Linked DNA regions of Homo sapiens: region 1 is linked to region 2. The links come from fine-mapping of genetic effects on gene expression. A gene starts in region 2. The other region holds a variant in brackets. All regions are shown on one strand. Distances are between the middles of the regions.

Evidence for each region. PIP is the estimated chance that this variant, and not a neighbour inherited with it, causes the effect. A credible set is the group of variants that fine-mapping cannot tell apart.
Region 1: its variant is the best candidate, but not a certain one, in a credible set for the expression of SEC14L3 in esophagus mucosa (GTEx, PIP 0.87).

Annotation. Positions count from the first base shown.
Region 1 is chr22:30,430,711-30,435,096 of GRCh38, reverse strand. It overlaps LOC105372990 (a long non-coding RNA gene), which reads right to left and starts at 2,411. Exons shown (of 4, transcript NR_148046.1): 1 at 1,853-2,411; 2 at 1,202-1,480; 3 at 712-805; 4 at 1-76. The variant A/G (reference allele first, on the strand shown) is at 2,156.
Region 2 is chr22:30,470,054-30,474,439 of GRCh38, reverse strand. SEC14L3 (SEC14 like lipid binding 3) reads left to right here and starts at 2,423. Exons shown (of 12, transcript NM_174975.5): 1 at 2,423-2,535; 2 at 3,858-3,933; 3 at 4,185-4,228; 4 at 4,362-4,386. The coding sequence starts at 2,482.

The sequences.
Region 1 (4,386 bases), 39 kb after region 2:
TCAGCCTTCTCTGTCACCTGATTGGAAGCCTTCTCAGGGGCCTGATGGGAAGCCTTCTCAGAGGCCTGATTGGAATCTGGAAGCCAAAGACATCAAAGACAGTTTTAAGCCACAACACAACATCCCCTCACACCCCCAACACACACAGCTATAAACTTCTGACCTTCTACTATTTGTTTACTGATACTGAAAGTTGAGAGAATATGAAGCTATTTTTTTTCCAAGGACAGAAAAGATAACATGTTGTTTATACTATGGTGTGAGTGACTACAAGCCTTCTCTCTCCTCTATGAAACTCTCAGAAGGGCATATATCAAGGGTTATGTGGGTGGAGGTGAAGGGGTCTCCAGATATCTGTTTAATAAAGATTACATGAGAGGCTCAAAAGTGGCAGGCCAATCTAATGCTCTCATTTTGCACTTGGGGAAACCAAGGCCCAGAAAGGGAAAGGATTTGCCCAAGGTCCCACACAGTAGAAGCCTCTCCAGACAGGATCCAGAAGCCAGGACCCTCCTTGGTTCTGATCAATGGGCACCTTGAGTGGGTCTTTGTGGTCCAGGCCAGTGTCAGTTTCCTCAGAGGCCTTTAGTAGCAAGATGATGTCTTCTATAAGCCTGTTCATGCAAGGCTGTGACTGATTCCCCGGGCCAGCTGCCTCCCTTGCCTCAGAGCCTACCTCCACCCTCCACACCCAAAACAGGGGCCTCCTACCTGCCAAGGACCTTTGATAGGGTAATCAGGGGGCCAGGCAGGTAATCTCACAACTGTCACTCATACTCCCAGGGAGGCATCCAGAAGTTCTTACCTAGAGGTGAGGGATGGAGGTGGTCAGTGCACCAGAGATGGGAGCTAGGGGTGGCATGGACCAGACCTGCATTTAACAAGCAAAGAAACAGAGGCTAACAAAAGGTCAGTGACTTGCCCATGATGTCACAGCCAGCAAGAGCTGGAGCTGGGATTTGAACCTGGGTCTAGGTCACAGTCCAAAGCCTCCATTCCCAGTATACCTCACACTGCCCACTCTAGGCCAAAGCAGTTGGGCTTGTGGTCCAGCCAAGCATGGGGAACTATTGCAGAAATTCAATCTGAGCTATTTTGAGCCTCAGTTTCCTCACCTCCCACACAATTAAGTGAGGTCATGTACCTCAAATGCCAGTTACAGGGTAAGGCATGCAGTACACCTTTGGTGAACATGACTCACCATGAGTGCCCCTGTGGAAGGAACAGGCCTTCTTGGTAGCATCAGATGGGACCTTTAGATTCCAGAGCAACAGCTTGTGGTGCACCCCGTAACTTCCAAAGATTCCTCAGCTTGGGTCTCTGTTCCTACGGGGTGGCAGAGTGGGGAGGGGGTTATCTGTTTCCACTCACATCAGCAGGAGTACCAGTAAAGCTGAAGGCCTGGAAGGAGAGCTCCAGTCTCTTGGGGACCTCTTGGGGCACGAAGTGGGAGTGGAAGTTCTTGCCGTTCACCAGGCACCTGGAAGGCACAGGTTGGAAGGTCATCAGGGTCAGACCCCTGAACTGGGATCTGGTCCTAGCCCCAACACCACCATACACCATCATTTGTTGAGAATTCTGCATGCCAAGCACTGAGCTAAGCGTCACCCCATTCAGTCTACACAGCAGGCTTTGAAGATTCTGGCACTATCCCCATTTCACAGAAGGGCAAACAGAGGCTCCAGAGGTGAAAGGGCCAGTAAAGCATTCTTGCTCCCCTGGCCTAGAAAGGACTACTCAAGAACGCCCAGGGAGCACTATCTGGGCATCCGTGCCTTCCAGCCCTGGAAGGCTCTCAGCCCCTGTCCCAGCCTCCCCAGAGATATCACCCACTGAATTGTACCCATCCTACCCTATCCTCCTCCTCCAGGTTCAGTACCCATGATTCCTGACAAGGCTGTAGTGTGCAGGGGCCACTTCCATATCCTGGCTGGGGCTGATCACACACTCGTCCACATATACCTGTAAAGGCTAATGGGAGCTGCCAACCACAGCAAACTCCATGTGGAGCTCAGAGCCCAGGAAAATGGTGCTGGTGTTGGTGGGGTCTGGATCCTCCAGTATGGCCCCACCCTGAGGTGGAATGAAACCAAGATGGGGAAGACACGAGACCCAGAGATGCTGAAGGGTTTGCCTGAGGCCACACAGCAAGAGG[A/G]GAAGCAGGAAAAGCTAGGGCCAGGTGGCCAGAAGCCCAGTGCCCTCACACTCTGTTACTGGTCCTCCCTCACTTCCTTATTTCTCCAGGGGTAACCTGGCCCAGAACTGGAGGCACAGGAGTCCCTGAGCTAGAAGACCTTCCTCTTGGGACATTACTTCAGCCCAGCCAATGTCCCCCACCTGTGGGAGGCAAAGAACCAGGCCAAAGTCTCATGCTGAAGTCCAGATTTCCAAACGCAGCCAGAGAGTCAGTGACCAAGGAGGTGGGAGGTGAGATGGGAGCTCCTGGGCTGGCAGGGAAATAAGGGGGGGGCGGGGAACATTGCAACTCTGGCATGTGAGGGGGCCCAGAAAACAAACACTAAAGGCCCATGCCAAGTCCCCCAGGGCAGCCCATGAGGAGGAAGAACAGGAGGGAAAAGGCCAGGAATTCCAAATTCCAACCCCCAGGTGAGCATTTCCAGCCCTGCCCCAGGCTCACACCAAGTGGGGGCCAGGAGGTCAGCGCCTGGTGGCCCCTTTCTGGAGGGGCAGCCCCCATCCAACCTACCATTCCCTCTTCCTGCAGACCTCCAGGTGGCAGGGCCCTAGACAGGCTTAGGGGTGCTAGGCATTGCTCACGCCTTGACCACACTGCTGACCCAATGGCGGGAGGCAGCACTGCAGGGCTGCTCTGAACTGGGTGGTGGTGCATAGACCAGGTCAGCAAATAATTCCACTATCTTTCCTGAGATCTGCGAGGATACTTGCTCCTTAGGATGGTGGGAAAAGGCAGGAAAGGTCTACTCCCAGCTTGGGCCCCCACCTCACTGGGTGGTCTTGAAGTCACTTGCCCTGTCTGGGCCTCAATTTCCTGCTAGGCCTCATTCGAGGTCCCTGTCTTGCTTAAATGCCTATTCTGGCAGGGCTCGGTGGCTCACACCTGTAATCCCAGCACTTTGGAAGGCCGAGGTGGGAGGATCGCTTGAGCCCAGGAGCTGGAGACCAGCCTAGGCAACATAGCGAGATCTAGTCTCTGCAAAAAAAAAAAAAAAAAAAAAAAAATCAAAAAATTATCCAGGCACACGCCTGTGGTCCCAGCTACTTGGGAGGCTGAGATGTGAGAATCACTTGAGCCTGAGAGGTAAAGACTACAGTAAGCCATAATTGCACCGCTGCACTCCAGCCTGGGCAACAGAGCGAGACCCTGTCTCAAGGAAAAAAAAAGCCAATTCTGCTTTGAAGAATGATGTGCTGAGTTGCATCTGGTGGTAGACAGTGGGGTCTTCCCTTCTGTGAGCCTCAGTGTCTTCATGTGGAATATGGGAATGATGGTTTTATCTCCTCACGGGGCTGTTGAGGATGCAAGAAACAAATGCACGTAAAGGGCACGTACAAACACACAGATGCTAAATGGCAAATCTGCATCAAATCCTTAGCTACTGAATTCTGCAGAGATACAGGGCTCTGCATCTTTGAGAGAAAAACTCACACTCGGAGAGGCTGTGACTTGCAAATCAGTATGATCTGATTCTACCCTTCTTTCCAGCCCAGACACCCCAGCTCTTCTCCCCCGAATCTCCCGGGTACTCCCTGGCTCTTGGCAGCCTTGTCCTCGTGAGCCTCCAACAGCCCCCTCACCAGTTGGATGAAGCCATAAGCTTTGAATGGGGCAGTGAAGACCTCATAGCCAGGTATGGCAGGGACTGGGGAGGGCAGGCAGGTGCCAAGGCACAGGTGGCAAGCATCCACCTGGGGCTCCTTCCTCACTGCCAGGAGGACATCTGTCTGATTACAGTCCTGCAGGAGGCTGTCTCCTGGCAATCCAGCCCAGGCTAGCTCAGGCGGAGAACCAGACTCAGCGAGAACATGGCCAGCAGAGGGTGCCCAAAAACCTCCCCCAGCATCCCCCACCTTCAATTAATTCCCTGCATCTCCAGAATGGAGCAGGGAGCTGGGCACAGTGACTCACGCTTGCAATCCCCGCATTTTGGGAGGCTAAGGTGGGCAGATCAGTTGAGGTCAGGAATTTAAGACCAGCCTGGCCAACATGGTGAAACCCCGTCTCTACTAAAAATACAAAAATTAGCTGGACATGGTGGCATGCACCTCTAGTCCCAGCTACTTGGGACACTGAGGCAGGAGAACTGCTTGAACCCGGGAGGCAGAGGTTGCAGTAAGACAAGTTTGTGCCACTGCACTCCAGCCTGGGTGACAGAGCGAGACTCAGTCTCAAAATGATAATAATAA
Region 2 (4,386 bases):
GAAGCTCCTAGAGCCAAGACTATGGGATAGCATAACAGCACAATGGCAGAGTGGTTAATTGCATGGGTTTACCCCTGGATAAGTTACTTCTCCATACCTCAGTTTGCTTATCTGCATAATGGGCGTAATAGTACCTACCCAACACCACAGGTATGTTCTGAGGTTTAAATGAGGTAATGCACTGCTTTTTTCTTTTTTGAGATGGAGTCTCACTCTGTCCCCCAAGCTGGAGTGCAGTGGCATGATCTCGGCTCACTGCAACCTCCGCCTCCCAGGTTCGGGCCATTCTCCTGCCTCAGCCTCCTGAGTAACTGGGATTACAGGCATCCGCCATCACGCCCGGCTAATTTTTGTATTTTTAGCAGACACGGTTTTGCCATGTTGGCTAGGCTGGTCTGGAACTCCTGACCTCAGGTGATCCACCTGCCTCGGCCTCCCAAAGTGCTGGGTTTACACGTGTGAGCCACCTCACCAGGCCAAAATGAGGTAATGCATGTAATGAGACCCCATCTCTACAAAAAATATAAGAAATTAGCAGGGCGTGGTGGAATGTGCCTGCAGTCCAGGCTACTCCGGGGGGTTGAGGTGGGGAGGATTGATTGAGCCTGGGGAGGTCGAGGCTGTAGTGAGCCGAGATCATGCCACTGCACTCCAGCCTGGGCAACAGAGTGAGACCCTGTCTCAAAAATAAAATAAAATAAAGTAGAATAAAATAAAAATGGGCCACCTGCACCATCCAATATGGTAACCACTAGCCAGATTGAACAATTTAAAGTAAAATGTATCAAAATCCAATTCAATTAAAACTTCAGTTCCTCAGTCACGCTAACCATCTTTCACATGTAACTAGTGGCTACCAGATATGTCTAACAGGACACCCCAGACAGAAGATGTCTACCATCACAGGAAGTTCTGTGGAGTGGCACTGTAGCTGATGAGGATTTGTGAACATAGCAAGGTACTTGACAAATCTGTGGTCTGGGTCAGGAAAAGAGCTCAGTGTGAAGGCTCACAACTCCTGAGGAGACCCCCAACCCTCCCTCCTGGCTCTCCTTCACAGTCTCCGATGCCCCTAGAAGTAACTAGCACACCTCACATTATAGGGATTAGGGTGAGAAAGGAGACTGGTGAGAAATGGGCAGGATTAGTGGCTCGGGAAAGGGCAGTGGAGGAACCCAATCTCTGTACATTACTGGCCTGGCAGGAAGTGGGTGTAGACAGCAGCTGGGGCTTTGCAGAAATTGAGGCTGGAATGTGAAATGGGGCAGGGCTGGGGTGTGGAGAGTTACCTAACTGTTCCTGAGTACATGCCACGGGCTCCCCAGGCAGAGGGAAATGGCCAGCATTAGCCCTGCCTTCTCCTTCTGGATCCAACTCTGTGAGGAGCCCAGAGCAAGGAAGATGTCCCTGAGAAGATGTCTGATACTGACCAACATCTACTAGCCTAAAGAGACCCTGGGTTAGCCCAGAATAGAGGCCCACTGTAGCTCAGGGGTGGGTACCCAGGATGCCCCAGGAGTAGGGGACCTAGAAAAGCCCTAGGCAGAATGGTGTGGGCTAGCCCAGCTGCTGGGGCCGAGGCTAGCCCGGGGTTGGTTTCAGCCCATGCAGACCCCCTCAAGGCTGAGATGTGGCCATGTGGCCATGTGGCCATGCTGCAGCCTCAAGCTGATGGTTTCTTCAGAGAGAGTCATGGATAACAGGGTCTCTCCCTTCCTGGAGCTGAAGCTTACAGCTCCAGGGGGGACCAGGAGAGCTGAAGGAGAGTATCCCTCAGATGCACACAACCCTTGACAGTCCCTATGTCTCATTAGATCTTCCCTCTAACCACATAAGGAGGGGAAGGCAAACATTAACGGCCCCATTTTATAAATGAAGCAAGTGACGTTCAAAAGATGCCATCTGTCCTCTTCTTGACTGTGGACACAAAAGAAGGACCTGGGCCTCCCACCCCCAACAAAGTGAATGAACTGTTTACTACACTGACCAAGCCTCAGAATCCTACCCTTTCAGAGCTGGGTAGAGGGGGGTGATCTTTGCAGAATCCTAAGTGTGGGAAGACTGGGGCTCAGGGAGAAAGGGTACCCACAAGGAGCGGTCCTCATTCTCCTGAAACTCCCCCTTCTCCAGGGCAGTGGTCACTGGAGGCCTGGGAGGGTCAGCGGGTTCTACAGGCACTCACTCTGGGCTCCAAGGTCACGGGAGGCCAGCCTCCCTTCCTCCCAGCTGCCTCCTCCTGGCAGGGGACCTCTGGCACACGCTCCATGCCCGCCTGCCCCTCCAGATCTGTCCCCAAGCCAAGCAGGGGACCTCACTTAATCCCAATTATGTAATCTGCAATTTAAACAGTTGGCCCATGAGGAGGCGCTTGGAGCCACGCCCAGGAGTGGGGGCAAAAGGACCCAGCTGGGTCAGGGCTGACAAACTAGGCTTGGCCTCTTGCCTATAGTGGCCACCACTCCTCAAGCCCCAGCCAGCACCATGAGCGGCCGAGTTGGAGACCTGAGCCCCAAACAGGCAGAGACCCTGGCCAAGGTGAGAGCCCCTCCCCCTGGAGTTCCGGAAGACCAGGGGAAAGGGGCTGGGGGGTGGAAAGAAGTGGCTGGAATCCTGCCCCACTCAGTTGATTCAGCATGTCCTTGACATTGTCTCTTTGGTGTTACCTCCCAAAGGGTCAAGCCCCACGGTGCCCAGTAACATCAACCCTGTCCCGGGCGGGGGTTGAGGGACTAGCACCACTTCCAGGCAATAACGTGGGTGGTGCCCACCCAAGTCAAGCCTGACTTCTTCTCATCCAGGAGCCAGAACCAGAGAGGTTTACCTGGCAGCCAGGTACCCCCGTTCCTCCCTCCCAGGCACCATAGGTAGGAGCTGAAAGATGCTGCTGGTCTGCCCTTTAACCCCTTCCTCTTTGGGATCCTGAAAGATGACCAGTCTGTAAAAGCCCAAGAGACAGAGCAGAAAGTGTTGTCTTTCAAAGAGCTAAAGGAAGAAGAGGACATATAATTATTAACCATGTTTTAATAGAAGATGGGATGAAAAAAAGCAGATGTTTTGAGGGCTAACACATGGAGGGAACTAAGAATGCATCCAAACTCCAATCCACTTATTCATCCACCCAATTATTTATCCTTTCTTCTTCTTTTTCTTCTTTTTTTTGAGATGGAGTCTCTGTCATCCAGGCTGGAGTGCTGTGGAGCGATCTCAGCTCACTGCAGCCTCTGTCTCCCAGGTTCAAGCAATTCTCCTGCCTCAGCCTCCTGAGTAGCTGGGATTACAGGCATGTGCCACCACACCTGGCTAATTTTTGTATTTTTAGTAGAGATGAGTTTTCACCATGTTGGCCAGGCTGGTCTCAAACTCCTGACCTCAGGTGATCCACCAACCTCAGCCTCCTAAAGTGCTGGGATGACAGGCGTGAGCCACCATACCTGGCTGTTTATCCTTTCTTTCATCCACCCATCCCTCTTCCTACCCACGCAGCCACCTATCCATCTTTCTTTCTCTCAATCACCCACCCATCTCTCCTCTGTCCATTCACTGATTTATCCACCCACCCACTCTCCATCCATCCATCTATCCATTCATCCATTGATTTCTTCTCCCTTTTTCCATCTACCTACCCACTCACCCATCTATTCTTCTTTCTAACCATTTATTCATCCATCTATCCTCCTTCCATTCATCCACCTATCCAGTGATCCATCTGCCCTTCTATTCAACCATTAACCCATCCTTTCATCAATGTGGGCCATTTTGCATGTGGGAGGAAAGGAGAGGTTGTGAAAACAGTCTTTGAGTCTGGAGGCCAAGGCTCAATGTGAGAGAGCCACTTTAACCAGCATCTCTCTTGCCAGTTCCGAGAAAACGTCCAGGATGTGCTTCCTGCCCTGCCCAACCCTGATGATTATTTCCTTCTACGCTGGCTCCGAGGTGAGGGCAGAGGTGGGAGAGGTTGGGATCAGGGGGCATCAAGAGGGGCCTGGTCTCAACTGCTCCAGAGTGTCTCATGGCTCTCAGGGTCCATCCACACAATCTTGCTTCACATGTTCAGGTCCAGAGGAGGGAAGGGGGTAGGGGAGCAAGGTCTCACCCAGGCCCCCAGTGTCCTCCATAGCTCCCACTGGCCAGGAGTAAGACAAGGCATCTTTCCTGTCTCACACCTTCCTTCTGTTTTCCCACAGCTCGGAATTTTGACTTGCAGAAGTCGGAGGCTTTGCTCCGCAAGGTGAGACCTATCCACTCTGGAAATTTATGGAGGGGATTTGTCAGGGGCAATCCATGCCTCAAGCCCCTCCTTCCATCCCTGTTCTCAGGGCACTGGGAGCCCAGTGGGATCTTACCACTCATTTCCCTTTCAGTACATGGAGTTCCGGAAGACCATGG